3 linked regions of the Homo sapiens genome follow. The protein of the gene in region 3 interacts with the protein of the main gene of each other region in a biochemical or structural test. Each region holds a gene or a part of one and is shown on either strand. Other genes may lie near its edges. The genes, in order: MAP4K1, LATS1 and MAP3K11.

Region 1 (3,750 bases), on a different chromosome or scaffold from region 3:
GCACACCCGTGAAGCTCTCTCTCACCCACACAGCACGCCCGGCAGCCTTTGGTGTCCTGGATCTTGGTGGAAACCATGTTCTTCCTGGAGAATAGGTAGGTGTGAAGGGGGGTAGGACAGCAGGAGGCAGAGGGGCATGGGAGGAATTATAAGGCTGTGTGGTGCCATTCATTGGGAGCTGGTACCTTGCCAGTAGGCGGTGGGGGCTAATGTGAGCGATGGGGTTTCCTGCTCTGGTCTCTTTCCGTTCCAGCAGGCCAAGGATGCTATGAGAATACAGGTGGGGGGTCTTTCCTGCAGGGTGTGTGTATGTAGGGGGAAGCAGGAAGTTATAGGATCCCATATACCACTTCCTTTCCTCCATCCCTTCCCTCAGCCCCATCCCTTTGTCTGAAACTCCCAAGCCTGCAAGTCTCAAGTACTTGTCATTCATTCATTCATTTCTCACTCCACATAGATTGAACGTCCATTGTAGGCCAGGCCTGCTGTGCTTGGCTCTGGTGAACAGTGATGAGCATAAAAAATATGTTCCCTACCCTCGTGGTATTTGTAGCCGTATCAGAAACTCTGGACACATAACCAGTCAGATGAAGTTACACATCTTACAAAGTTTTAGAAGAAACACATCTAGAAAATCTTCTAGTTTGTCATCACAGATGTGGCTTTCACTAACTCATGAATCCCATTTGGCTTGGTGTTTCCCCCAAAACTAGAAATTATTTCATTTATTTATTATTATTATTATTATTTTAGACAGTCTCGCTCTGTCACCCAGGCTGGAGTGCAGTGGTATAATCTTGGCTCACTGCAGCCTCTGCCTCCCAGGTTCAAGCAATTCTCATGCCTCAGCCTCCCAAGTAGCTGGGAGTAGAGGTATGCGCCACCATGCCTGGATAATTTTTGTATTTTTAGTAGAGACGGGGTTTTACCATGTTGGCCAGTCTGGTCTCGAACTACTGACCTCAGGTGATCTACCCGCCTCGGCCTCCCAAAGTGTTGGGATTACAGGTGTGAACCACCGCACCCGGCCTATTTATTGTTATATATAGACAGGGTCTCATTCTGTCTTCCAGGCTGGAGTGCAGTGGTGTGATCATGACTCACTGCAGCCTCTAACTTCTGGGCTCAAGTGATCCTCCCACCTCAGCCTCCCGAGTAGCTGGAACCATAGGTGTGTGCCACCACACCCAGCTAATTTTTTTTTAATTTTTAGTAGAGACGAGGTCTCACTATGTTGCCCAGGCTGATCTAGAACTCCTGGGCTCAAGCAGTACTACTGCCTTGGCCTCTCAAAGTGCTGGGATCACAGGCATGAGCCACTGCACCCCGTCCAGATTTTGAAATCTATAACTTGCTCACTCTATCTTAGTAAAGTATGGAATAAGTTCTGATTGTCATCTGAACATGAAAGCTATTTAAAGACTAACTTAGGGCTGGGCACGGTGGCTTACACCTGTAATCCCAGCACTTTGGGGGGCTGAGACGAGTGGATCACCAGGTCAGGAGTTCGAGACCAGCCTGGCCAACATGGCGAAACCCCGTCTCTACTAAAAACACAAAAAATTAGCCGCGTGTGGTGGCAGGTGCCTGTAATCCCAGCTACTTGGGAGGGTGAGGCAGGAGAATCGCTTGAACCTGGGAAACGGAGGTTGCAGTGAGCCGAGACTGCGCCACTGCACTCCAGTCTGGGCAACAGAGTGAGAGTCTATCTCAAAAAAAAAAAAAAAAAAAAAAAGGACTAATTTAGGCCAGGTGCGGTGGCCCACACCTGTAATCCCAGCACTTTGGGAGGCCAAGGCGGGTGGATCACCTGAGGTCAGGAGTTTGCGACCAGCCTGGCCAACATGGTAAAACCCCATCTCTACTAAAAATAAAAAATAAAAAAAGTAAAAAAAAAAAAAGCCAGTCATGATGGCTCACATCTGTAATACCAGCTACTCGGGAGGCTGAGGCACGAGAATTGCTTGAACCCAGGAAGTAGAGGTTGCAGTTAGCCAAGATCACGCCCCTGCACTCCAGCCTGGGCAACTGAGTGAGACTCGGTCTCAAAAAAAAAAAAAAAAAAAAAGGCTAATCTAAGGCCAGGTGTGGTGGCTCATGCCTGTAATCCCAGCATTTTGGGAGGCCAAGGCAGTTGGATCACCTGAGGTCAGGAGTTTGAGACCAGCCTGGCCAACAGGGTAAAACTCTGTCTCTACTAAAAATACAAAATTTAGCCAGGTGTGGTGGTGCACACCTGTAATTCCAGCTACTCAGGAGGCTGAGGCATGAGAATCACTTGAACCTGGGAGGCAGAGGTTGCCGTGAGCTGAGATTGTACCACTGCGCTCCAGCCTGAGTGACAGAGGGAGACTCTGTCTCAAAAAAAGAAAAAAAAAGACTAATTTATTGTAGAAACTACCTCAAAATTGACTTGAGAGGTGAGGACTATTGTGAACCCCATTTTACAAATGGAGAAATTGAGGCTTGGGGAGCACAGTCAAAAAGTGTCTGGGATTTGAACCTAGGACTTTGTGACCAAGCAGTCTAAGTTTTTTTTCAGCTGTGCCCGTCTACTTCCCAGCCCCCGAACCCTTGGACCCCTTAACTTCCGACCCCATCCCACCTGCTACCCACAGCCAGACCTGAGAGAGACATGAGAACGTTGTTGATGGAGTACACCCACGTAGTCCGGCTAGGAAAGAGCTGCAGGGAATGGGAGAGATGGCTCTGGTGACACCCCAGCAACCCCCGACTCCGGCCCTTGCCCTTGCCCTGGCCCGGTATGGTTCCTCACCATTTCCAGCGTGGCCTCCTGGTCATTCCGGTTCAGGATGAAGATGCCTTCCTCTGCCCCCAGGAGCAGGTGCTGGTCTGGAGGCACAGACAAGGACGCTGGGACCGACTTCATCCTCAGGGACCTCCCAGATCCCCACCTGTCTGACCTCAAACACTGACACTCTGTCCCCAGCTCTGACCCTCTATTCTTTCTCCAAACCAATACTCCCAGCCTCTGTTTCCCCAAACAAAGCCAGAGCGGACGGTCCCGCAAGCCAGTCTCACTCTCCCTCCTTTTGACTACCCATATTCTGGTGGTTCTTTCTTCTCTGCCCAACTGTCTTCTGAACCAAACTGACCCCAACCTTAGACCTGTCCCCCAAAATAGTCCTCTGATTTCCTCCCCTCTTTCTCCCCAGTTCTGATACCCTAATGCCAATCCTAACATTGACCTTCAAACTCAGACACCCCCAAACAGGACTTTTTCTGTCCAGTGTGACCTGTTCCTTTAACACTGACCTTGTCTTCATCTCTTTGATCTCTAGATTCTGTCCCTTTCTGGCTGCATCCTAATCTCTAAAATTCCTCACCCCAAAATGCTGCTCCCAGTCTCCCTATCATTAACCTCCAGCTGTCCATCTTTCTCGTGCTCCAAACTCTAACCTTTTTGTTATATTCTGACACTCCTGGCCCCTGAATTCCAATATTCCTACTTTCACTCTCCAACTCATCCCTCTACCCATTTTTTTTTTTTTTTTTTTTTTTTGAGACTGAGTCTTGCTCTGTTGCCCAGGCTGGAGTGCAGTGGCATGATCTCAGCTCACTGCAACTTCCGCCCCCTGGATTCAAGCAATTATCCTGCCTCAGCCTCCTGAGTAGCTGGGATTATAGGCACGTGCTACCACGCCTGGCTAATTTTTGTGTTTTTAGTAGAGACGAGGTTTTACCACGTTGGCCAGGCTGGTCTCAAACTCCTGACCTCAAATGATCCGC
Region 2 (3,750 bases), on a different chromosome or scaffold from region 3:
TTCAGCAACAGGTGGCATCACAGTCACATTTGAAGCGGTTCCCTCAGGAAAAGGACTGGGTTGAACAGTTTGAATTGGCTGTGGTATCCAAGAAGGGTGTGTAGGTGCTAAAGCAGTCTGTAGCTCTGGTTTTAATACACGCATACTTTTCACAGGCTGTTGAATAGGAGCTGGTGTAATTGCAGTGACTGTTGTAGCAGAAGGCTGAGAATTAGCAGAGTGACTTGCTCTATTTCCTAATGGGTTATTAAAAGAATTTGACCTCACTGGTATGTTAGGTTGCCATGTAGGGATTTCATGCCCACTGCTCGGGGATGACTGGGCTGGAGCAGAAGATGACTGAGGCCAATTTGTTTGCAGTCCAGGTACACTAATGTTATATAGTTCCATGTTATGACTATTTCTGTTTGGCACCATCATAGACTGAGGAATACTTCCATTTGTATATGACGAAGGAGCAGCAGATCCCCCTGTTTGTAAAGCAGAAGGGCTTTGTCCATTAGCTGCTGTCAGAGGATATGGAGGTGGTGGCTGCCGATTCACAGTGCCAGCAGGGACAACATTTTGGTGTATCATGAAATCAGTTTGTCCAGTACCATTCTGCATTCCAGGTCTCCCTGATGGAAAGTTAAATTTGCTAGAACTCTGCATGATGATTGGTTGTCTGCCAACAGGAACAGAACTAATGCCTCTCTGTCCTTGATTAGGAGGATTCATGGGGGAAGTGTTGAGAGGTGGTGGAGGATAGCCCTCTTGCCATGCCCCAGGTGGGACAGGAGAGATTCGGGAGATTACGTATTCCATGTTTCCAGAATAGCGCTTTGTTTGAGAGTTTGGTTCCCATGAAGGGGGAGGTGGAGTTGTACCTCTTGGAGGGGGAGTCTGGCCTCTTGGAGGTGGTGGAGGAGTAACACTCCTTACTTGAGGTGGTGGTGGGGGGTTCACTCTCTGTCCGTTGCTAGGGTGAGCTTGAACAAATGCTGATATACCAGATCCAGACAAAGGTCTTCCTACATCTGTCTGTGAGTTGGGACTCTCAGAATGATAGGCCACACTTTCTCCTAGTGGCGGGCCATGCCTCTGAGGAACTAAGGATTCTTTAGAACCTTTCCAGCTCTGTTTGCGGTTAACTGATTGCTGCACATTCCCTATGGTTATAAGAGAGATAAAGAGAAAAAAGAATCATGTTTTTAACCTCTAATTTTTGAAAACCTTAGCTTGCAATTCTGATATTACAAATGATACTCAATTCTCTTTCAAGAATTATAAAAATATAAAAAAGTTCAAGTGATCTCTTGTACAAAATGGTGACTGTAGTTAATAACAACGTATTGTACTCCTGAAAATTGCCGAGAGTAAATTTGAAGTATTCTCACTACAAAAAAATGATATGTGAGGTAATAATACATGTTATTTGGCTCAATTTAGCAAAAAAAGAAAAAAAAGAGTTATAAAAATAAAATTTCACTAAGTGGTTTCCTTTTACCTTTTAGAATTTTATTTATTTTTGACCAGGCGTGGTGGCTCACGCCTGTAATCCCAGCACTTTGGGAGGCTGAGGTAGGCAGATCACTTGAGGCCAGGAGTTCGAGACCAGCCTGGCCAACATGGTGAAACTCCATTTCTACTAAAAATACAAAAAAATTAGCCAGGCGTGGTGGTGTGCACCTGTAGTCCCAGCCACTCGGGAGGCTGAGGCAGGAGAATTGCATGAACCAAGAAGGCCAACGCTGCAGTGAACTGAGATCGTGCCACTGCACTCCAGCCTGGGTGACAGTGCAAGACTCCATCTCAAAAAAAATATATATATATTTTTGAAGAGATATAATTTCATATATATGCATGTATATTTGTAGATAAATTATTAGAGGTAGCATTATTAGGCCAAAGGGCGTATCTATTTGTAATTTTCATAGCTCTACTGATTTTAAATATATTTTAATATATATCTATATTTTTAAATTGAGACAAAGTCTCACTCTGTCACCCAGGCTGGAGTGCAGTGGCACAGACTCACTGCAACCTCCGTCTCCCGGGTTCAAGTAATTCTCCTTCCTCAGCCTCCTGAGTAGCTGGGACTACAGGCGCACGCCACCACGCCCAGCTAACTTTTGTATTTTTAGTAGAGACGGGGTTTCGCCATGTTAGCGAGGCTGGTCTTAAACTCCCGACCTCAAGTGATCTGCCCTCCTAAGCCTTCCAAAGTGCTGGGATTACAGGTGTGAGCCACTGCACCTGGCCTTTTAATATGGTTTTTAAAACAGAAAAAGATAGTAGGCTATAATTAGCTGAATATTAAATAAAGTATAGATTTTACAGAAACTGTCTTTAACGGAATTTCCAAATCAATAAAACAAGCAAAAAAAAAAATACAATACCAAAAAAAGAGAAGTATTTAAAATAGAATAGTCCAGCCACTTAGGAAAAATATACAAGATACACTGGTATAAAGACAATACATATATACATTCTAGAAAGACTAAAGGTTTAAATATTAAAGATGAAATCATGTAAGCACTAGAAAAAAACAAAAGACCATTCAATAGTATTGGGGTACCTCTTGCGAATGTCTTCCCAGGCATGACAAAAGTAGAGATCTAAATACAAACACTCATTACCATTAAAAACAAAACAAAAAAGAATACTAATAAATTTGAAAGGTCAACATCATCCTGGGCAAAAATATATCTAACAATACATCTGAGAAAAAAAGTGGTAAAATGTGGTAAATGTTCATAATGTTCAGTTTAACACTCCCTTTCATCTAGGCTGGACAGCATTTTGGGTCTACATTCTCGAAGCAGGAGCCAGACGAAAAGCAAGTGAGTAAATAATGTTTGGGGAACATTATCATTCCGGATAAACTGGACAAGTCCTCTGGCCATCAGGCTCTTTCTCACTTTCCTCAGAGGCCAGCTGAGGCCAAATACACCATGTCACTCATTCAGCTTTTAGAGTATACAGTCACCCCTGTTGTTCTGCGCCTCCCACAGAGCTCTCCATGTTCTTCCACTTCCCGAACCTTTCCACCATGCCCTCCGGATCCACTCGGCTCCACAGCCAGCAAATGTGCCTTATCAGTAACCTCTCCTCCAAGCTTTCCTGCCACCTCCTTGAAGCTGGTTTTCTTCTGCTGATACTACTTTCCTTTCAGCCCTTTGAAATTAAGGTTTCCTTTAAAAATAACCTGGCCTAAAGATGGGGTTCTAACATTTGTTCTTACAGGTTGATATTATTCCTTTTAAAAAGCCAGCTCTTTTGAACTTCATGCTATGTGGGAGGCCACACTAATTCCTCTCACCTAATGAGCTCCTGCCTATTTGCTCTATTTCATTCAGCCACAGCTTCAGCATTCAGTCTACCCTAAGCCCTGCCTTCATCCTGTAACCTCAATAACCACGAGGATAAACCATCTATTGCCCTCATATCTCAGCTTCTTGACGTCCCCTCTTCCACTCCACATCAAGTATCATTCTCATGATTGTATTTCAAACTTTGGTATTACTCATATCTGCTCTTGTTTCAGAATAACTACTTTAAGGTTTATACGCTTATACTCCCAGACCACAACTACTTCTTCTGTTTACTCCTACTGCAAAAGTTTTTAAACTTTATTAAGTAGCAACCTCACCAAGATCTCCAAGATTTTTATTTTTTTTTTTTTGAGACAGAGACTTGCTCTGTCGCCCAGGCTGGAGCGCGGTGGCATGATCTCGGCTCAGCGAAACCTCTGCCTCCTGGGTTTAGGCG
Region 3 (3,750 bases):
CAAGCTTGCCCCATGTTTTTTTATCCAAAGAATTTGTTAATTATTTATGAAGAGAAACTACTTATTAGCCCATATATTCATGAATAGTTCAGATCAGTGACAAACTTCTAAGTAATTCAACCCAAAGAAATTCTTCATATTCCAAAATCACTTTGCATTCTGAGAGATAGCAGCCTTCCTCATCTCCTCGAAGTATTTCATGGCATCATAACTTCTGTAGACATCTGTGCCCATAGAAATCTGAAATGCCTTCTTTCTTGGTCCAGCCCCTGCAAACTGAGAGAGCCGCAGCCCCCAGGGATACAGTGAATGCTCCCACAATATGAAATTGCAGATGTGTGGCCAGAAGGCCACATGTCTGAGGTTTCATGAAAGCACTGGAAACCATGGTAGTTACTGTTCTTGATAAGTATGTCGGCCTCAACACCAGTGCCCTTCCTGGCTGATGAAGAAATGGATTGCCACTTGCCCTGAAAGGATGTCAGCTGCCCAGCTCAGTGGCTGGCTGAGCATCTGGTTCCCCTAGCCCAATCCCACACTCCACGCATCATCTGGGTCCATGAAAGTACATGACATTGACCTCACAGCCACCCCCCGAAACCCAGCTAAGAATCAAATAATGGGGCTTCACAGAGGTCCCAGACCCTGTGAGATGGTCCCCGGCATAAGCCATACCACTGGAGAGTCACACACACCCTCACCCTGTCCCCAGTGGGCTGTTCTGGTCCCTGGAGAGCTGGCTGCAAGGAGTGGCACATTGGCAGGGTGCACTCAGCTACGCTGATAGCAACTGCCCTGTGAAGCTTGTTGCCTTAGAGCCAATAACTACGTGGCTGTGTCCTCCCTGTGAGACCTCACGGAAGCAGTTTCGCCTCTATCTATCTATCTTTGGGTCAAGAATAGTCACGCAGCTTTCTCCTAAACAACAGAGTTGCTAACTCTTGCTGCCAGGAAGCTTAGAGGCAGATTCAAATCCTAGCTGGATTATGTTGACCAAGTCCCTTACCCTTCAGAACCTCAGTTTCTCAGGCCATTGACTGCAGGAACTTCTGTTCACTCTCATTTTGTCTGCTGGACCCTATCTTCTCTTCCCTTTGTCTCATTTCTGTCTTTTATTTTTTTAAAGATAGAGTCTCATTCTGTTACCCAGGCTGGACTGCAATGGCATGATCATGGCTCACTGCAAACTCTGCCTCCCAGGCTCAAGTGATCCTCCCACCTCAGCTTCCTGAGTAGCAGGGACTACAGGTGCATGCCATGCTTGGCTAATTTTTATATTTTTTGTAGAGATGGGGTTTTGCCATGTTGCCCAGGCTGGGCTGCGCTTAAGTAGTCCACCCACCCCAGCCTCCCAAAGTGCTGGCATTACAGGTGTGAGCCACCACACCCAGCTTGCTCTTGCTATTTTCTTTTTTTTTTTTTAGAAGGAGTCTTGTTCTGTCACCCAGGCTGGAGTGCAGTGGTGCGACCTCAGCTCACTTCAGCCTCCACCTCCCACGTTCAAGCAATTCTCCCTCAGCCTCCCCAGTAGCTGGGATTACAGGCATGTGCCACCATGCCCAGCTAATTTTTTTTTTTTTGAGATGAAGTGTCATTCTGTTGCCCAGGCTGGAGGGCAGTGGTGCAATCTCGGCTCACTACAACCTCCACCTCCCAGGTTCAAGTGATTCTCCTGCCTCAGCCTCCCAAGTAGCAGGGATTACAGGCATGTGCCACAATGCCCGGCTAATGTTTGTATTTGTAGTAGAGATGAGGTTTCACCATGTTGACCAGGCTGGTCCCGAACTCCTGACCTCAAGTGAGCCACCTGCTTCAGCTTCCCAAAGTGCTGGGATTACAAGCGTGAACCACCATGCCCGGCCTAATTTTTGTATTTAGTAGAGACAGGGTTTGACCATGTTGGCCAGGCTAGTCATGCACTCCTGACCTCAAGTGATCTGCCCTACTTGGCCTCCCAAAGTGCTGGGATTATAGGCTTGAGCCACCACTCCCAGCCTCTCTTGCTTTTTTTTTTTTTTTTTTTGAGATGGAGTCTCACTCTGTCACCCAGGCTGGAGCGCAGTGGCGGGATCTCGGCTCACTGTAACCTCCGCCTCCTGGGTTCAAGCGATTCTCCTGCCTCAGCCTCCCAAGTAGCTGAGACTACAGGTGCGTGCCACCATGCCCTGCTAATTTTTGTATTTTTTAGTAGAGACAGGGTTTCACCATGTTGGCCAGGATGGTCTCGATTTCTTGACCTCGTGATCCGCCCACCTTGGCCTCCCAAAGTGCTGGGATTACAGGTGTGAGCCACCGCACCCGGCCAACTCTTTCTTTTTTTTAAACATGATTTCCCCTCTTCTGTTTAAACTCACTGTAAATGATCAGTTCTTCACCTGCGAAGTGGGGGTGATATGATAACCTCGTGGTTGGTGCAAGGATTATAAAAATGGATTCTTCATCAAACAAGAATTTGCTTTTTTTTTTTTTTGAGACGGAGTCTCGCTCTGTTGCCCAGGCTGGAGTGCAGTGGTGTGATTTTGGCTCACTGCAAGCTCCGCCTCCTGGGTTCATGCCATTCTCCTGCCTCAGCCTCTTGAGTATCTGGGACTACAGGCGCCCACCACCACGCCTGGCTAATTTTTTGTGTTTTTAGTAGAGACAGGGTTTCACCGTGTTAGCCAGGATGGTCTCGATCTCCTGACCTCGTGATCATCCCACCTGGGCCTCCCAAAGTGCTGGGATTGCAGATGTGAGCCACCGCGCCTGGCCCAGGGATTTGCATTTTAAGAGCCAGGCATCAACATGTTAAACACTGCCCTGACCTCATATGATGAAGCAGGCAGACTCATAAACAAGTCCAGTAGCACCTCTATGAGGCATAACGTGAGCAATAACTGTGTAGGTTCAGGGAGATTCTGGGAGGGCTTCACAGAGGAAGTGACATCCCAGTTGGTCTTGGATGGTGCATAAGAGGTCACTGAAAGCCAAGGTGGGAAAGGTCAGCCACCCAGAGTGAATAGTGTGTGCGCAGGCATGCAGCTCACCATACCCAAGGAAAAGGCAACCTGGCTGAACTCCGAGAAGAGTTGAGAGCCGAGGAGTCTCAGGACTGGGGCTGCGGACAGGGGCCAAGGCACATGGGTCAGTAGATGTTGATTGAATGAATGAGTGAATGAAGCTGGAAGTGATGGGTAGTTTTTAAGCAGAGACCTGTCTTTAACAGGTTTGCATTTTAGAAGGATTCCCTTGTCCCTTCAGTGGCAGTGGCCGGGGTGGGAGTTGGGTGAGGTAAGAGGCAGAGAGTCTGAGTAAGGGTTGGGGCTGACAGAAGGGACTGTGAGCTAAGTCCTGGTTCATAGTAGAAGCTCATTTTTCCCAGCCTTGTATTTCTCCCTCCCGACATCCAACCTGCTGCTGCACTCCAGGCAGGAGGGGAAAGGCAGAGGGACAAGGCCAGGGAGGGCTTCAGAGGACCAGCCAAGGAGGCCAGACTTTCTCCTAGTGACAGTGGAGAGCCACAGCAGTTTCTAGAGCCAAGGAGGGATCTGACAAAATCAGGGCTTGTGAGAGCCCATCCTAGAGTCCCTTGTCCTTAATGAGGGGTTCCCCATCCCTGCCCAAGTGGTCTAGAATGGAGTCAGGCCAACCCTAGACTGGAAGGTAGGACACTAGTGTCTTGAAATCTAGGGCAGAGTCTGGCTGGGAAATGGTGGAGAGCAAAGGTTCTACTGCCCTTGCCTGGGGTGAGGCCGGCTCCACCTTTCACTG

Evidence for each region.
Region 1: of the proteins of MAP3K11 (region 3) and MAP4K1, one has a biochemical effect on the other in vitro, tested with the Homo sapiens proteins (one study listed by BioGRID).
Region 2: the proteins of MAP3K11 (region 3) and LATS1 form a complex in vitro, tested with the Homo sapiens proteins (one study listed by BioGRID).

What each region holds. Positions count from the first base shown.
Region 1 is NC_000019.10:38,597,301-38,601,050, forward strand, and holds part of MAP4K1 (mitogen-activated protein kinase kinase kinase kinase 1), read right to left. Parts: intron 2,854-3,750; coding exon 2,777-2,853; intron 2,686-2,776; coding exon 2,625-2,685; intron 295-2,624; coding exon 186-294; intron 96-185; exon of another isoform or gene 85-95; coding exon 26-84; exon of another isoform or gene 1-25. UniProt on the Homo sapiens protein: Serine/threonine-protein kinase, which plays a role in the response to environmental stress. Appears to act upstream of the JUN N-terminal pathway.
Region 2 is NC_000006.12:149,683,445-149,687,194, forward strand, and holds part of LATS1 (serine/threonine-protein kinase LATS1), read right to left. Parts: intron 1,149-3,750; coding exon 1-1,148. UniProt on the Homo sapiens protein: Negative regulator of YAP1 in the Hippo signaling pathway that plays a pivotal role in organ size control and tumor suppression by restricting proliferation and promoting apoptosis.
Region 3 is NC_000011.10:65,600,476-65,604,225, reverse strand, and holds part of MAP3K11 (mitogen-activated protein kinase kinase kinase 11), read left to right. Parts: intron 1-3,750. UniProt on the Homo sapiens protein: Activates the JUN N-terminal pathway. Required for serum-stimulated cell proliferation and for mitogen and cytokine activation of MAPK14 (p38), MAPK3 (ERK) and MAPK8 (JNK1) through phosphorylation and activation of MAP2K4/MKK4 and MAP2K7/MKK7.